2 separate regions of the Homo sapiens genome follow, and region 1 is linked to region 2. The links come from fine-mapping of genetic effects on gene expression. A gene starts in region 2. The other region holds a variant in brackets. All regions are shown on one strand. Distances are between the middles of the regions. Region 1 overlaps SNX16 (sorting nexin 16). Region 2 holds the start of SNX16 (sorting nexin 16).

What was found. PIP is the estimated chance that this variant, and not a neighbour inherited with it, causes the effect.
Region 1: its variant is the best candidate, but not a certain one, in a credible set for the expression of SNX16 in sun-exposed skin (GTEx, PIP 0.54).

Annotation. Positions count from the first base shown.
Region 1 is chr8:81,804,826-81,814,245 of GRCh38, reverse strand. All of the region lies in intron 5 of SNX16 (sorting nexin 16), which reads left to right. It also overlaps the pseudogene HNRNPA1P36. Among named protein-coding and RNA genes, the nearest start is that of SNX16, 33 kb to the left of the region's middle. The variant C/T (reference allele first, on the strand shown) is at 5,781.
Region 2 is chr8:81,838,016-81,847,435 of GRCh38, reverse strand. It overlaps SNX16 (sorting nexin 16), which reads left to right and starts at 5,251. Exons shown (of 8, transcript NM_152836.3): 1 at 5,251-5,314; 2 at 7,354-7,824. The coding sequence starts at 7,450. LINC02235 (long intergenic non-protein coding RNA 2235) reads right to left here and starts at 4,817. Exons shown (of 8, transcript NR_170320.1): 1 at 4,765-4,817; 2 at 2,865-2,985. RefSeq lists enhancers at 4,567-4,836, 5,268-5,317, 5,245-6,177 and a silencer at 5,648-5,697.

The sequences.
Region 1 (9,420 bases), 33 kb after region 2:
TTATTTCATTACTAAATGGTTTTTCATTGTTTGCATATACCACATTTTGTTTATCCAGTCACCCATTGAGGGATACTTGGATTGTTTCCAGTTTTGTGATATTATGAGTAATGCTATGAACAATTTCATATAATGTTTTGTGTGAACATATGGCTTTATTTCTCATGGACTGAGAAATTCTACTTCCCTAAGAGTAGAAGTGTTTGATCATGTAACAAGTTTAACTTTTTAAAGAAACCAATAAAGTTTTTGAAAGTTGCTGTATTCTATTCTCACTTGTACTGTACGAGAGTTTTAGTTTCTCTATGTCCTCACAAACATTTGATATTATCTCTCTTTTGGATTATAGCCATTCTCTTGGATAGGTAGTGATATTTCATTATAGCTTTAATTTTCATGTTTCTAATGATTTTTTGATATTGATATCATGCCACATGCTTTTTAGCCATTCATGTTTTCTTCAATGAAATGTCTGTTCACGTCTTGCCCATTTTTTAAAAAACCTGGGCTGTTTATCTTATTCAGTTATAAAATCTTTACTTTAGATATTAATCCTTTATCAGAGATACAATTTGTAGATATTTTCTTGCAGTCTGTAGGTGTCTTTTCATCCTCTTAATGGCATTCTTTGAAGTGCAAAAGTTTTTAATTTTAATGAATTTATTTTATCACTTTTTTAATGGCTTATGCTTTTACTATTGTATTATAAAAACTCTTTGCCTAACCCAACATTACAAATATTTTCTCATATATATATTTTTAATTTTATATTTTAGCTCTTACAGTTAGGTTTATGGTCTATTTTGGGTTAATTTTTTTTAAGGTATTAGGTAAGGGTCTTAAGTTCCTATACCTATCTTAATTTTTTTTTAGTTCGTTTTGTTTAATTATGTTGACACTTCTGTCAGAAATCAAATGACCATGAAAAGAAGGGTTTGTTTCTGGACTCTTAATTCTAGTCTGTTGATCTATTTTCCTGTCCTTGTGCCAGTATGATACTGTCTTGTTTACTGCAGCTCTATTATCATTACTGTTTGCATAGCATATCTTTTCCCATCCTTTTACTTTCAATCTGTTTGTATCTTTCAACCCAAGATCCATCCCTTCTACATAGCGTGTAATTGGGTCTTGATCTGTTATTCTTTCCGACATCTGTCTTTTACATCTGCCATTTTGCAATTTGTTTTCTGTTTCTCTCATCTGTCTCCATCCCATTCCTCCTTTTATCTTGTGTAAAATAATTTTTAGTATGCCATTTTGATTCTTCTGTAGAATTTTTTACTTTTTCTTATTTTTCAGTGACTGCTAAAGGTATTATATTTCAGTGAAATATAAACTTGGCTCCAATATCTCTCCGTTTCCTCCCTCTTTCTTTGTGTTGCTATTGTTATCTATTTTACATATATCTTATAAACCTAACAATACAGTGCAATAATTATTTCTTTATACAGTCTTTTGTGCTCTAAAGAACTTAAGAAATGGGAAAATATATTTCATAGATTATTTTATTTAATCCACGTGTTTACTATTTCTGGCCCTCTTCATTTCTTCCTGGAGGTTGATGTGATCATCTGGTATCACTTCCTTTCAGTCTCATAATCTTCGTTTAGTTTTTCTTGTAAGACGGGTCTGCTAGCAACAAATTCTCACAGTCTTTGTTTAGCTGGAAATGGTCATTTTTGAAAGATAGTTTTACTGACAGATTTTTTTCTTCCAGCACTCTGAATGTGTCATTCCACTGCCTTCTGGCCCCTATTATTTCTGATAAAAAAAAAATCAACCTTTATATTGTTTCCATGTGCATGATGAGCCATTTTGCCCTTGCTGCTTTCAAGATATTCTGTTTGTTTGACTTTCAGCAGTTTGATTATGATGTATTGGGGTGTAGATCTCTTTCTGTTTCTCATGCTTTGGCTTCATTGAGCTTTGTTGACTTGACAGATTAATGTTTTATATCAAACTTTGGAATTTGTTAGCCATTATTTCTTCAAATACTTTTTCACTCCCTTTTTCTCTCCCTTCTCCTTCTTGGACTGTCATTACTTGTATATTTGTATACCCTGTGTTGTGCAAAATGTCTCTGAAGTGCTGTTCATTTTTCTTCAATTGCTTTTTTCTCTGATCTTCAGATTGAAAATTTCTATTGATCTTCAGATTCACAGATTTATATTTCGGTCATATTAAATCTCCTGTTGAGCCCCTCTTGTTAATTTTTCAGTTACTGTGCTTTTCAACTCCAAAATTCTCAATTGCTTATTTTTTAACTGTTCTTTCTCTTTATTGAGATTTTTCTATTTGTTGACTCATTATCATTATCCTTATCATTAATTCAATTTTTTCTAGTTTATTTCATGTACGTAATGGTTGCATTAAAAATCACTGCCTGATATGCCTAACATTTGGGGCCGTTTAGAGATAGCTTCAATTGACTGCCTTTTTTCCTGAGTATGCTTAGATTGACCTTGTTTCTTTGAGTGTTTTGTACATTTATTTGAATACAAGATATTTTAGGTGATACACTGTAGCAACTCTTGATTCTTAATCTCTGTCTCCTATAGTGGTTATTATTATTTTGTCTGTCTGTTTAGTAACTTGCCTGGACTAAATCTGTGAAGTTTGTCTCCTCAGCAATGTGTGGTCACTGATGTCTTTTCTCAGTGTTTTTTTCCTCATTTTATTTTTAAGCCTGGCTTTCTTGTATTTCTGCATAGCTTAATGTTCAGTCAACAGTTGGTCATAAATTTTGCTTATATACCTCAAACTAGTAAGATTTTTACACTCTGGTAATGGATCTGTATATAGTCTAAGGAGTGTATTTAAAGTTAAGGTCATTTTCAAGTATGCTGTAGATTTTAGTTTCTGCTGAATCCTTTCCCATCTCCTATTCTATACACGCATATGGGCTCTGTTGTCCTGTGTGGCTTGGGTCCCAGGATATGTGGAAAGCTTATCAAGGCCCCATAGATATATCGTTTCCCAGAACTCCCTATTAAATCCTGGCTAGATCATTGCTTCTGGGTTTCATTCAGCCTTTCGGCTACCATTTTGTCTCTTTGATTTAGAATCTGTTTAGAAAATTAAGTTCTATTTTAAGTGAACATTGGGCTAAAGAAGCTAAGTGTTTATCACTCCTTTTCCAGCTCAAGGATTCCAGGATTTTTATTCCTTTAAAGTATAGTATTCTTTCTTCTTGCAAGACAGCCTTTAGTTCATTTTTTAATTTTTAAATTAGCCCTTTTACAAAAAAATAATAATTTGAATATCTTTTTAGTGTTCTTAGTTCAAAATATATGCTAGTTAGTATTGTCAAGTATCATAACTTGGCAGGGGAAGAGTGGAAGCTGATTTGAGTTAGGATTTCTCATACACTCTATCGGCATTTAGGGCTGGATAACTTTTTGGTGGCCGAGGCTAGAGCACAGCCTGACGTGTGCATTGAAAATATTTAGCAGCATCCTAGGCCTCTACATATTAGACACCAATAGCATACCCACTCATGACAAGTAAAAATGTCTCCAGACATTACCAAGTGTCTTCTGAGTTTAAAATCGCTCCTGATGTAGAACCACTGATTTAAATAAGTCACCAAGGCAATATTAAGTTTATACACTCAACAGAGTAATATGGAATGTATCTCCTAGACTCTTTCTCTAAAATAAATGCATTTTCCTACAGTTGTATTTGAAAATATATGTTTATTTGAACAGTGAATGAAGAAATTCTGTGTTTGCTCCTCTCCTTCAAGGTAAAATCTACAGTAACCTAATGAGATATATATCTCTTTTGTCTGCAGACTTACTTAAGCAGCCTCTCATTTTAAGAAAAATCCCAAAATGACTTATTAACCCACATTTCTTGGAGTGTAAAATTAAACTTATTCAAAGGATACTCAGTTCGGCAAATCTTTAACCTACTTTTCTCTGTTCCCTATTTAAGGTAGTCATTTCTACCCCTCATATACTTGTACTAAAAGAGGGAATTAAGATTAGGGATATAAATTAGTCTACCTTTTTTTGGGAAAATTCAAATCTATTACTTGTATGGAGATAATATAATTGGAAGAAATGAGGTCTTACTGTATTAACATTAATGAATAGCTTATTAGAAATAAATTATAATTTTTAATATTTTATATGAATTATAAGTACAAACAATTAAAGCAGAATTCTTAAGCCATCTATTCTCTACCTAAATTGTAATATGTAATGAAGCTGTTTTCTTAGAATCACTTGCTAGCAGATTTTCCTGTCCTGATGGAACTGTTTGATCTCTATCCCAGAAGGAAATTTATATCAATATAGCCTTCCAATGACTATTCTAAGGACAGTCTCCATTCCTATATACATTTTTCCTAAGGTACCTCCCTCACTGGGGTGGATGTTAATCTTGGAAGAAACCCAAGGTTTTAAAGGTACTTTCCTAGGAATACAATTGTTTCATTGTTAGATATTCTCCTCTTCAACTTCACTGCATATGCTAAAATTACACCCCAAATTTGTTATATCAGTTTGTACTTTTACCAACAATATGTTTTCCTTTTGCTCTATATCACCACTAATACAAGTATTGTCAATCTTTTAATTTTTGTCAGTCTGATGGGTATAAAATAATATCTTACTGTTATTTTAGCCTAATTTTCTTGATTACCAGCCAGGTCTGGCATCTTCCATAGTAGCTGCACATTCTTTGTCACATTTTCTATGGCTCTTGTTCTTCCCTACACACCAGCACATAAAAATATTTCTCCTAAATTTCCTTCTAATAAGTGTAAACTTTTGCTTTTCACACTCAGGTCTTTTTTTTTTTAAGAGAATTAAATTGTTTATTGATTACACCTAATAATGGATGATACACAAGCTTCATTCCCATCTATAATTTTATCTGGTACCATTACTCAATTTAAATATATTGCATAAGATGTGCCAACAATCATTTTTATAACCAATAATTCCATGATTTTGCTTGGGTAATCCCTTTTAATGGTGAACTTCAGGTCACAACAGTAACTATCAGTTCAACTACACCAAGGTTTCTGAAGACAATGACTTCCCCACCCAAGCAGGTTGTATGTAAATTCCAAATAGTACCTGGCATCACTCTGAAGGAATTCTAACTTCACACTGTTGGGGAAATTTACCAAGATGGCTTCAGAGTAGACTAACTTTACACAGCACATTAAAAAAAAGACATTTATTCAGTATCACAATCAGACTATTACATTTAGCAATCAACAGCCTGGGTGCAAAAAAAAAAAAACTACATTAAAACCCTTCGTTGGAATGCTTTACATTTGCCACAGAACAGAAACTAAAATAACCTGTTATACAATTAGTCAGAAATACAGTCCTCGAGTTTTTTGCCTATGCACATGAGTATTTGTCTAAAACATGTCTTCTTTGTAGCAGCTAGGCCCTGCCACCACTGTGCTTGGCTGACTTCACAAATCTGTTGTTACCTGTAGCTTCCCTGTTACTTCTCTGGCTCTCCTCTCCTGCTGAGCTTTGTTTCCTAATTAAAATCTTCTGCCACTGCCATAGCTACGGCTGCTCCTGGAACCGCCATAGCCACCTTGGTTTCGTGGTTTGGCAAAGTATTGGCCTCCACCACCATGGGGGCCAGAGCTTCTGCCTCCAAAGTTTCCCATCTTCATGGGTCCAAAATTTGAAGACTGATTGTTGTAACTGCCAAAATCATTGTAGCTTCCACCACCTCCAAAGTTGCTTCCATCATTACCAAATCCCTTATAGCCATCCCCACTGCCACCATATCCCCCACCACCA[C/T]AGCTGTCAGCAAAGCCACCATGACCCCTGAAGTTTCCTCCACAACCAAAGTTGTCATTCCCACCGAAAACACCTCCACAACCACCACCAAAGTTTCCAGAACCACTTCGACCTCTTTGCCTGGATGAAGCACTAGCCATCTCTTGCTTTGACAGGTCTTCCTAACTTCACAGTTGTGGCCATTCATGGTATAGTGTTTCTGAATGACCGTCTTATCCATGGAGTCATGGTCGTGAAAGGTTACAAAGGCAAAGCCCCTTTTCTTGCCACTGCCTTGGTCAGTCATGATTTCAATCACTTCCATTTTTCCACACTGTTCAAAATAATCTCTTAGGTGATGTTCTTCAGTGTCTTCTTTAATGCCACCAATAAATATCTTTTTCACAGTTAAGTAGGCAACTGGTCTTTGAGAATCTTCCCTTGAGACAGCTCTCTTTGGTTCCACAACTCTTCCATCCACCTTCTGTGGCCTTGCATTCACGGCTGCATCCACCTCCCCCACAGTGGCATATGTGACAAACCCAAAGCCCCTGGAGCACCTGGTGTTTGGATTTCTCATTACCGCACAGTTCGTGAGGGTTCCCCATTGCTCAAAATGGCTCCTCAGGCTCTCATCAATTGTTTCAAAACTCAACCTTCCAGTGAAAAGCTTCCTCAGCTGTTTGGGCTCTTTAGGAGACTCTGACTTAGACATGACAGCAGGGAGAAGAGAGACTTTAACAATGCTTCTTCGGCGGCATCCACGGGCAGAAAGGAGCAAGCTGACCTCAGATCTTTTAATTGATTTAACTTTTTCTGTATGGATGACCAGTGATCCCAACCTCATTTATTTAAAAGTTCATCCCTACTGCACTAATTAGTAATTCTTCTATGCTAAATAGTTGAGTGTGAACGGGTCTGTTTATGGTCATTCAGTTCTTTTTTTTTTTTTTTTTTTTTTTTTTTTTGAGACAGAGTCTCAAACTGTCACCCAGGCTGGAGTGCAGTGGCGCCATCTTGGCTCACTGCAACGTCTGCCTCCGGGATTCCAGCAATTCTCCTGCCTCAGCCTCCTGAGTAGCTGGGATTACAGGCACGCACCACCACATCCAGCTAATTTTTGTATTTTTAGTAGAGACGGAGTTTCTTCATGTTGGCCAGACTGGTCTTGAACTCCTGACCTCAGGTGATCTGCCCACCTCAGCCTCCCAAAGTGCTGGGATTACAGGCATGAGCCACCATGCCTGGCCACTCAGTTCATTTTTAGTAGTCTCATCCCTCTGCTGGTACTATATTGTGTTAATTACTATAATTAAATAATCTTATTAACTGGCAGAACAAGGGTGCCCTTATTCTTCCAAGTTGGCTATTCACTTTTCCATATGAATTTTAGAACAACTTTGTGAGTTCCATGAAAAAATCCTATTGCCATTTTGTTTGGAATTTTAATACATTTATTTATTAATTTTGAAGAGTATCTTTATAGTATTGAATCTTCCTATTAATAGATCTTTGCATATGGAGGGTTTTTTTTTAAGTTCTTCAATAAAAGTTTACATTTTTTTCATCTAGGGAAAGCCATAGGATTCCTCATCATTTTTGTTGATGAAATAATTGGTATTTTTATTACATTCTAAGTTACTAGTTTTATTATTGATTTTTATATATCTATTTTGTATGTCACATTCTCTTGTTAGTTTATAGATCTGTTTGGATTTTCCATATCGGTAATCATATCCCCTGCAATATTAACAATGTGTTTTTTCCTAATACGTAATATCTTTCATTTCATTTTTCTGTATTATTTTGCTAGATAGATTCTTTGGAGGTTAATTGAAGCCATTATGGTGGGCATCCTTTTCCTTTCATCCTAACTTTAATGAAAATGATCCTGTATTTTGCTGTTGGATATGGAGTTTTCTATAGGCTGGTGGTAGTTGTGAGTTATGTTGATTTGTTTATTGTTTTCGTTGTTGTTTTTAGATTAAAGAAGTTCTATTTCTAGTTTGCTAAGAGGTTGTAGGGATGTGTGTGTGTGTGAATGCTTTCACTTGCATCTGTATAGATGATCATATGGGTTTTTTTTAATCTATTGGTGTGGTAAATTACATTCATAGATTTTCAGTTGATAAAACATTGATTATGAGATTAACGCAAATTCAGCGTATTTTTTTAATTACTGGATTTGAATTGTAATGATTTTATTTAGAATTTTGGCATATGTAACATTTGTTTCTGTTACTGCCCTTTGTTGGGTCTGGCATCAAAATTATACCAGTTTTATAAAATAAGGAATAGTCCCTCTTTTTCTGTTATCCAGAACCATTTGAATAAATGCATATTGGTTGTTCCCTAAATGTTTGTTAGAATTCACCTGTAAAACAATCTGGATTTGATATTTTCTTTAGCTTGTCTTATAGTAGATTTTTAACAACTGATTCTGTTTCTTTGATGTCTGTAGTTTATTCAGATTATTTGGGGAGGTTTCAGTTTTGAGAATCTGTATTTTTCTAGAACTTGACCATTTTGTATAGATTTTAAAATACATTTTTTTTTCTTTTTTTTGAGATAAGAGTCTTGCTCTGTGGCCCAGGCTGGAGTGCAGTGGCGCTATTTCGGCTTGCTGCAAGCTCCGCCTCCCAGGTTCACGCCATTCTCCTGCCTCAGCCTCCCGAGTATCTGGGACTACAGGCCCTCGCCACCACGCCCAGCTAATTTTTTTGTATTTTTTAGTAGAGACGGGGTTTCACTGTGCTAGCCAGGATGGTCTTGGTCTCCTGACCTCGTGATCTGCCCGCCTCAGCCTCCCAAAGTGCTGGGATTATAGGCGTGAGCCACCGCAAAACTGTTGTTCTTAGTAGTATCACATGACTTTTGAAAATCTCTTAACATATCTTTAGTTATATATCCACTTTGAATCTCACTGTTTTTTCCACTAGTCTTTTCTCCTTGGATTTGGTGTATTTTAATAGTCTTCTCAAAGAACCACTTTTTGCCTTTTTGATTCTCTTGATTAAATTCTTTTCCTGTCTCTTAATTCCTTTCTTATACTTGGTTTTAGTATGTTCTTTGACTTCTTTAATTGGATGCTTTCTCAGTTGTTTCTAGTATTATACAGTTCTTTTATATAACAGTCAAATTGCATCTCACAAGTCTTAATATTTTCATTCTCGTTCATATTTTATATTGTTCCTATTATCTTGTTTGCTCCATAAATTTAGAATTCTCTTTAATTTTTCAAGCACTTTTTTCTAATATTATTGACTGTTTTTTAGTCTATTTGCATTTTTTTCAGAGATTATGTTCTGTCTGACACCAATTCTTGGTTATTGTTGACAGTGTTCTGCAGTCTTTGGGATCTGCACATATGTGATAAATTTTCTAAATTTTCCATGTGTGCTTGAAAAGAATATGTATTTCTTAATTGTTAGACTCACAGTTCAATATATGTTCATCATATCAAACTTACTAATTTGTATTGTTAAAATTTTTTTAATCTTAACTCATTTTTTTGTTTAATCCGTTAATTGCCAAGAGTTATGTCAAATTTACCCCTTATGGTGTGGATTTGTTCAATTTCTTCTTGTAATTATGCATTTAAAATATTCCTGGTGAATTATTACTTTTATTATTAGGTAGAGACTCTTTGTGCCTAATAATG
Region 2 (9,420 bases):
TATATGTGTGTACAATGACCTGCTCACAGGAATCATCAGTTATTGGGCCTGTGGGTAGCAATGAAGCTGGATTCAAGGTGTTACAAGTTTTAAGGGTTACATCTGGATTGTCTAGCAGCATGGCCTGGCATATGTTTAACCTTTCCTCCATCATCCACATGTGTCCTTTTATCTCTAAGACTGGCTTTACCTGATGGGGGGTTAGAACTTCCAGTGGTTGGCCCAGGGTGATTTTAGTGGCTTCCTCCACAAACATAGCAGTGGCTATTGCCTGCAGGAAACTTGGTCATCTCGAGGCTGCTCCATCCAACTTCCTTGAAAAGCAGGCAGTTGGTCTGGGTTCTGATCCTAATTTCTAGGCTAGCACTCCCACAGCTACGCCCTTCTCAGCTACATACAAGAAGGGCTTAGTTATGTCTGGGATGCCAAGAGCAGGAGCCTGGTAAGGGCCTATTTTAGCTTGGTGAAGGCTTCTCATTTCTGGGGTCAATTCCGTTAGCTCATTTTCAGGCCTCCTTGTTGCTTCATATACGAGCTTTGCTACAAGCCCCAAATTTGGTACCAATATTCTGCAAAACCCAGCCATTCCCCAGAAAGAACAAAGCTGCGCTTGGTGGCTGTGGGGCAACCACATATGGCTTGCACTCATTCTGGGGATATTTGTCGGGTTCCCGGTGTTAAGACATACCCTAAATATTGGATCCATTGGAGGGTAATCTGAGCCTTCTTTTTGGACACTTCACATCCTCTGTCAGCCAGGAAATTCAACGTTTTTATAGTATTTTGGTCAGAAGCCTCCTGGGTTGGGCTACACACAAGAAGTTCAACCACATACTGGAATATACTTCCATTCTCCAATTGCAGATCCCTCAGATCCCTCTCTACAGATCAGGCTAAGAAATCAGGGCTATCCTGAAAGCCCTGAGGGAGTACTGTCCAAATGTATTGTTTTTTTTTTTTCTGGTATTAGGATTTTCCCATTCAAAGGCAAAAAGGTATTGGGATTCTGGGGCCAGAGGAATAGAGATGAAAGCATCTTTTAGGTCTAGGAGAAACATTTTGCATCCCCTGGCACCTAAGCCAGGAGGGTATATGGATCCACCACCAATGGGTGGACGGGGATAACAGTGTGATAAATTATTCTGAAATCCTGTACTAGCAGGTATTCCCTCAAGGGCTTTAGAATGGTTAAGATGGGGGTGTTTCAGGGAGAATTGCAGGTTTTTAAGAGCTCATGGGTAAGCAATATCTCAACTATGGATGCCAGGCCTTTTCTTGCTTCCAGCTTAAATGGGTATTGTTTTCAATTGGGGCAATAGCTGGGGTCTTTAAACTGGTATTTTGACTGGCACTGCTGTTTTAGCTTTCCCTGGTGATATGGTTTGGCTGTGTCTCCACCCAAATCTCATCTTGAATTCCCACATGTTATAGGAGACACCCAGTGGGAGGTAATTGAATCATAGGGGAAGGTCTTTCCCTTGCTGTTCTCATGATCATGAACAAGCCTCACAAGATCTGAGAGTTTTATAAGAGGGAGTTTGCCTGCACAACCTCTCTCTTTGCCTACTACCATCCACGTAGGATGTGACTTGCTCCTCCCTTGCCTTCCACCATGATTGGAGGCCTCCCCAGCTATATGGAACTGCAAGTCCATTAAATTTCTTTCTTTTGTAAATCATCCAGTCTCGAGTTTGTCCTTATCAGCAGTGTGAAAATGGACTAATACACCTGGCTTCCCAGCATAACATGCTAGCAGGTTAACCTGTTTATTAATGTGGTCTGGGATATTGTCTGTATTTTTGACTATTAGCAATTTTACTGGGTAATGCTTAAATTTGTAGTAGTGCCCCTATTTTAATGATAATATCGCTTCCCAACAGGTGGACAAGGCAGCTTGGAACTACTAAAGATTTATGTTGGAACATTTGTTTCTCAAACTGACAAAGGAGAAGTAAAGAATCTCGTTTGTGGCTTTCCTTCCATTCCCGGAACACTCTTAGACTGGGAGGAAAGTTTTCCTGCATAAGCAGTAAGGACAGAGTAATTCGCCCCTGTATTGGAAAAAAAAAACTGAATTTGGGTACCCATGACATCTAGTTACCCAGGGCTCTGCAATAGTAATTATGATGTTCCTGGACAGGGGCAGTGAGGAAGACTCTAGGCCCCTTCAGTCTTCATCTAATTCCTCCTTTCACACTGCTAGACTTTTGCCTAACTGAGCCCCTTGGTGGGAGCGGGTGCAGTCAATCCTCTAGTGCCAGAGACCCCTCTTAGTACATTAGACGTCTCTGACCTTAGATTGGTGCCACCACCACTTTGGAATGATTCCAACCACCACTGATGACCCACTGTGAGTTTTCCCTCTTGTCCCTGGATGAAGGTCTCTACTTCTAGAATTAACTTTCAGACAAACCTTTGGATTTTTTTTCCTATCACACTTAAAACAATTCTTTAACTTTCTAAATTTGGACAAGATTAAATTGTACATAGATTCCCTTTCATGAATCCCCTCCATGAGTTACACAGACCACAATATGCCCAAACTCTGTGACTTATCCTTAGCCAGTCAAGTAGGGGGACGGAAGAATTTAACATAAGGAAAGAAGGCTTAAGCCACCTGAAACATGTGTGAATTTTCCCTGGACAGGCTGCCACTGCCAATTGCATCACTCATAGGCATCAGGGACTACAACTGGAAAAGACAGAAAAGAGTCCTTCCCCTTTCTGGGCAAGGCAGCTATCCCCATTCACTCCTGGGCCTTCAGTTAACACCAGAGAGTGGCCCCAGTTGCCTTCAGTTACCAAGGAGCTACTAGGAAATGGCCACTGAAAGACTGAAAAAGAAAAGAACTCAGGTTCCTCACCTGAACCAGGTGGTGGCAGTCAGGTGCTTCCACATGGACCTTTTAGTTTCACCAGAGAGTGGCCCTGGCCAGAAACCTGCAGTTGCCTCCATGCTTAGGCACTGTCCATCAAGGATCCCAGCTTGGAAAGGAAAAGGGAGAGAGAGAAAGAGGAAAAAGAAAAATACAAATCCCAAACTTTGGGCTTACCTTCTGGCTGGCTCACCAAAATATGTTACCAATTGAGGGTAGTTGTCCAGGTTCTTGGTGTTTTGAACGAAGAATTGGACAGAACACACAAACAAGGCATGGAAAGCAGAGATTTATTTTAAATGAAAGTATACTCCACAGAAGGAAAACAGACTCAGTCAAGGGGTTCAAGAGCATCAGCTACAGAATTTTCTGGGGCTTAAATACCCTCTAGAGGGTTCCCATTGGCCTATGCCCAGTCTGATTGGTTGTGGAAGGAGACCAATCAGAGTGAAAAGTAGGCCCTCAACCAGTCTGATTGGTTGAGGGAGGGGCTCTATCAGAGGTTCTTTCATTTTTCAACTGCCACCCAAAGAAAGGAGGGTTGCAACTGCCACGCAGCAACTGCCACGCAGAAAAAAGAGGGGTTGAAAATGGAGTCGCCTCTGATATCAGTCAGCATGAATCAGCCTTAGGTCCCCTGTTTCCAGACCCTATTCTCCTACCTAACATTGTTTCTACAGAATTCTATTTTTATTTCATTCACACTAAAAGGGCAGAATCTCTTAAACCAAAACCATCATCATGTCACAAACCAGACTATTTTCCAACCTTCATTTCAAAATGACCACTATCACCTTTTCTCACTCTTAGTCGGGCAGTAGAATAGGGTCCGGAGGCAGGGAACCTAAGGCCCATTCACGCTGACTTCCTAGAACTAAATCAAAAGGAAAACTCCAACTTTCCAAGCCCAAGTAACAAAAAGACCAGAGGCTATTCCCTTTGCAACCCCCTGCCCAACCTTCTAGGCCCTTGGTATCTGGGCCTAGTCTTCATTTCCATAGGAGTACAACTTTGTAACTTAACTTTAGCCTCTGATTGGTTGCAGGCTACTCCTTAATTTACAGAGGGTGTAAACCAAGTAACCAATGGGAAATCTCTAGCGGATATTTAAACTCCAGAAAATCCTGTAACCAGGGCTCTTGAGCCACTGGCTGGAGGCCATTCCCACTCTGTGGAGTGTACAGTCATTTCAATCTCTGCTTTCCTTGCTTCATTCTTTCCTTGCTTTCTTTGTGCGTTTTGTCCAATTCTTTGTTAAAAAAACCAAGAACCTGGATGACTTGTAGTCAAGACCCTCCATGGGTAACATTGGGACTATACAAAAGCCTTAGAAATCGTGGAATGATTTTTCAACCACATTATCTGATTCTAATGATGAACAGACCTGTAGACCGGTCTGAATCTTGGGATTTGCCTATCAAAAAACTCGGCTTTCCCTACTGCACAGGTCTTCAGAAGCGCATGTCTAACAAGGCTAATATTCCATCATCGGGATCAAATTGCTCACCGGATAGTAAAAAGACACTACAGAATTTCAGGGGTTCTCTGCCAATGAGAACTTCTGAATTATGTAGAACGGATCAGCTACTAAGCAGTGTTCTATCTTCCTACTCTTCTAATCGATTGTCATCCCTTAAAGCGCTGCTAATTCTAGAAAACAATCTATAACCTGTTAGAATCAGCGCAAGCTGGTGATGACTACAAGTCCCATGATGCAAAGTATGAGCACGGACCAATGTTGGTCGCAGTTCCTTCTGGGAATTGTAGTCTTCTCCTGTTTGGCAAACTAGGTATTGTAGCCTCCATTTCTCAGAAGTTCAGTTGGAAAACTAAAGATAGTGCAGAGAATGTCGATTTCCTGCCACAAGATTACATTTATCTTCGCTACCTGAGCGCCCAGCCGATCAACTCCAGTCGCTCCTCCGGTGGGCGGGCGCCCATGCCGTGACATCACTTCCGGCAGAGATGTGTGTGTGACGCTCTCTCTCTCTCTCTCTCGCTCTCGCTCTCTCCCTCGCTCGTTTTCTTTCTCTTTCTCTCTCTCTCTCTCTCTCTCTCTCTCTCTCTCTCTCTCTCTCTCTCTCTCTCTCTGTCTCTCGCTCTTGCCCTCTCTCTCTCTCTTTCTCTCTGTCTCTGTCTCTCTCTCTCTCTCTCTCTCTCTCTCTCTCTCTCTCTCCCTCCCTCCCTCCCTCCCTCCCTCTCTCTCTCTCTCTCTCCCCCCCCCCCCCCCCCCGCCCAGTTCGGCCCCTCCTTCCACACAGCAGGGATCTTGGGCCCGGGCAGAGACTGGCTGAGGCGGGGAGCAGCTGCTTTTGGGGCGGGGGTGTCACGTGAGGCTTCTCGCTGCTGAGGGAGGAGGCGAAAAGCTGCGGTTAAGGAGAGTCCGGTTTAACCGTCACCGGGAAGCGCGCTCGTTCGGGATCGCCGAGGGGGCTGAGGTAAAGACTGGGTCATTACCTCAGGACAGGCGGTCGCTGTCCCGGGTTCTCGTACGGGTGACACCTGCAACCTTGATGTCTGGCGGGCGGCAAGGGGCTCCGCGGGAGAGTGGAGAGGCGCCGCAGGAAGCCCAGCCACCTTCAGGCCACCGCCGACCCCACTGTGCGTCTGGGAGGCGCTGGGCGCGCACCGGTCAGCGGAGGCGGGAGAGTCTGTGATCCCAGGGAGCTGCGGGTCTCGCCGCCTGCAGTGCGGAAGACCCGTGACCGGCGCAGACCCCGGCCTTACCTTCCGAGGGTCGAACTGTGCCTGGTATTTGCCTCTTTCCTCCCGCCCACGGGGTTGCTCAGAGTCGGGCCACCTCACCTGAGGTTTTCCAGAGTGAGAATGAACTGAGCGTCCTGGGAGCAACTCCGCATCAGGGTAGAGGCGAAGACGCTCCTAATGAGCACAGCACGTTTTTTTGTTTGTTTGTTTGCTTGTTTTGTTTTTTTAACGCTTGGGTAGCGCTCACATCTTCGGACGTCAGTGGTTGTGTTGATATGTATTGATATGCGACCTCCCCCCAGCCAGGCGGCCTCAGGTAGTAGAGTGGCAAAGGCCAGGTAGATCCCTCGGACCTTGAGAAGGTTGAGATTTCAGACTTACTTGTTTTTGGGGAGGCCGTCAGGCGGAACCGAGGAGCGGTGAATCAGCAGCTAAAGTTTCATGAATCTTTGATAATGGGGAAATGTTGCCGAGAGCCACTTGAGTTAAAAATCTTTTTTTTTTTTTTTTTTGAGACGGAGTTTTCCTCTTGTAGCCCAGGCTGGAGTGCAATGGCACGATCTCGGCAAACTGCAACCTCCGCCTCCCGGGTTCAAGCGATTCTCCTGCCTCAGCCTCCCAAGTAGCTGGGATTATAGGCCTGCGCCACCATGCCCGGCTAATTTTTGTATTTTTAGTAGAGACGGGGTTTCACCATGTTGGCCAGGCTAGCCTCGAACTCCTGACCTCAGGCGATCCACCCGCTTCATCCTCCCAAAGTGCTGGGATTACAGGCGTGAGCCACAGCGCCCAGCCCAGAGTTAAAAATCTTATTTCAGCATCTTTCCAAGTCCAGGTGACTCATTTCTTACCTTTCCCACCAGTAGAGTTTCGTATGAAAAGTTGGGCAGTTATTGTTGTGTGTAGTCTTGTCATTTTGTTGGTCTGTAGTTGTTACAGTTTCTTATGAGTTTATTATTTAACAAAGTAATAGTAAACCATTTCTTCTTTGTGTTATGATACTATTCTGACACAAGATATACTGGTCCGTTTGATAACAGATTCTTGAGTGTAAGTTATAAAGATTTAAATACCCTCAGTTTATCGTAGAGCAGAATTAGTGATGACCTGTAAGCTGTGAAGAACGGTTACAATTTTCACTATTTAATTTTGTTGCATATAAGTTCAGTGTTCACTGGGTTTTATTTGAGTAACTTGACCAAGTGTGTATTTTTAATCCTGGGTTCTATAGAATTATACTATGTAGCATCAAAGCATCTGGTTCATTGTTACTACTCTGTGTAAATCTTTATAGTTTCACTAATTAAATTGAAAGGTAATGTGAATAGATTTCCTCCCTTTCTGATTAAATCCAGAGGTAATGTAAATAGTTTTCTTCCTTTTCTTTTTTCTCTCTTGTACTGAATGTAGTACTGTCAAGATGATAAGCATGGAATAAAGCTTCAGAAGGGTCTTTACCAATCTTTCTCCTACCAACTTTTACATACATGAAATCAGGTTAAAATGAACTTTACAGAAATACTTCACAAGGGAATAAAGTAGAGGAAAAAGGGATAACATGTAACATGGAGTCAAGGAAAAAGAGTGTGAAGTAGTTTTGCTCTCTCTATCTTGCAAATAGGAGTCCTTAAAGACAACTGGGAGAAGGGGTTTGAGGTATGTTTTCATTCCAAATAAAATAATAGTGTCATAAAATTGAAAAGAATACTTTTCTTTTGAATCCTGCTGCACATTAAAGACTAACCTTTTAATATGTCCTTTTCATTTTTAGATAGTGAATTCCTAAGAAGAAAATAATGGATTGCATATTAGTTGTTCTCTAAGTGGACTCAACAGTGTGCAAGCTTGTTGGAAAAGCCAAAAGAAGATGGCAACTCCTTATGTCCCAGTTCCTATGCCCATAGGAAACTCTGCTTCCAGTTTTACAACAAACAGAAATCAAAGAAGTTCTTCTTTTGGCAGTGTCTCAACAAGCTCAAATTCTTCTAAGGGCCAGTTAGAAGACTCAAATATGGGTAATTTTAAACAGACAAGTGTTCCTGATCAAATGGATAATACTTCATCTGTCTGTAGCAGTCCCCTCATTAGGACTAAATTTACAGGTACAGCTTCTTCCATTGAGTATTCTACTAGACCAAGAGACACTGAAGAACAAAATCCGGAAACAGTGAATTGGGAAGATAGACCATCTACACCTACTATACTGGGTTATGAAGTGATGGAAGAAAGAGCTAAATTTACTGTAAGTATTGACTTCTGCTGTATAACACTACAAAGTGAAAGATTGGCTAATCTCTGTGTTCAAACCAGTGTTAAATTAATGTAAACTTGTACTTATAATTTCTTGAATATGAAATTCTAATGGTTTTTACACCACTGAATTCTATCATGTTGTAGTAAACTTTTGCTTTACCTTAATAAATTTTCACAAACCAGACACACCTATGTAACTATTAATAGCACATAAATCAAGGAAAAGAACGTTACTAGAATCTTAAATGCTCTAGGTTCTCTGCCAGTCAGGACCCATTCACCCAATACTTTTGTATAGCCTAGATTAATTTTGCCTATTTTTGTACTTTATCTAAATGGAATTATATACTCTTTTTGCATCTGGTCTCTTTTCTTTAGCCTTGCCAAATTACATGCCCAGCTTTAAAAGATATTGGTGAACAGTGTTTCAGAATGGTTGTACTGATTTATACTCCTAAAAGCAGCATATAAGAGTTCCAGTTGATCCATAGCTTCCTAACATGTGATATTTTAACATTTTTATCATTTCAGCTGTTCTCATGGGTACAGAGTAATATCACATTGGTTGTGGTTTTAATTTGAATTTTCTTAATGACTAATTGAATTTAAAATTTTTTTGGGCTGTTTGGATATTCTCTTGTGAAATATCTGTGCATGATTTTTGTTCATTTTTCTTTTGGGAAGTCTCCCTTTTGATTTGTAGTTTTCTGTGCACTTTGGATATAATTTTTTTTTCAGATACATGTATTATGACTATCCTCTCACTCTGTGGTTTGCCTTTTCAATTCCTTAATAATACATTTGATAAACAAAAGTTCTTAATTTTAATTTGGCTTGATTTATTACTTTTTTTAATGGCTAGCACTTTTTGAAATCTTTGCCTACTCCAAGGCTACAAAGATACTGTCCTATGTTTTCTTCTAAAATCTTTATTGTTGGACCTTTCACATTTAGATTCGTAAACCACCAGAATTGATTTTTGTCCATGGTGTGAGGTGAGGGTCAAGTCTTTTTTTTTTTTTTTTTCCAGATGGGACCAATTAATCAGGCTTTTATTTGAAAGACCACTCTCTCTCCTCTTCATTTTCAGTGTTGTCTGTGTCATAAATCATGTGACCATAAATGCATGGGTCTGCTTCTGTGTTCTATTTTTTCATCCTTTACTAATTTCACACTGTCTTAATTAATAAAGTCTTATAATAGGTCTTGATATGTAGCAGTGTATGTACTTTAGCTTTTTTCTTCAGGATGGCCTTGGCTATTCTTCACCCTTTGCATTGAGATTTTGTTAGATCTATAGATTAATCTGGGGAGAACTGACATCTTTACTGAGTTTTCAAATCTATGAACCTAATCCATTTACTTAAGTCATTTTTTTCTAGTAATGTTTTGTTGTTTTTGGTGCAGGGTTCTTACATCTGTTGGTTAGATTTATTTCAGGATATGGATGTTGTTTGATGTTCTTGTGAGAGACATCTATTTTTGTTTTCTATTTACTGCTATTTTATATAATTTGTCCTTTTATGTTTACATATCCAGCAACCTTGCTCAACTCTCTTATTAACTCAAAAGGTTTACTTTTTTG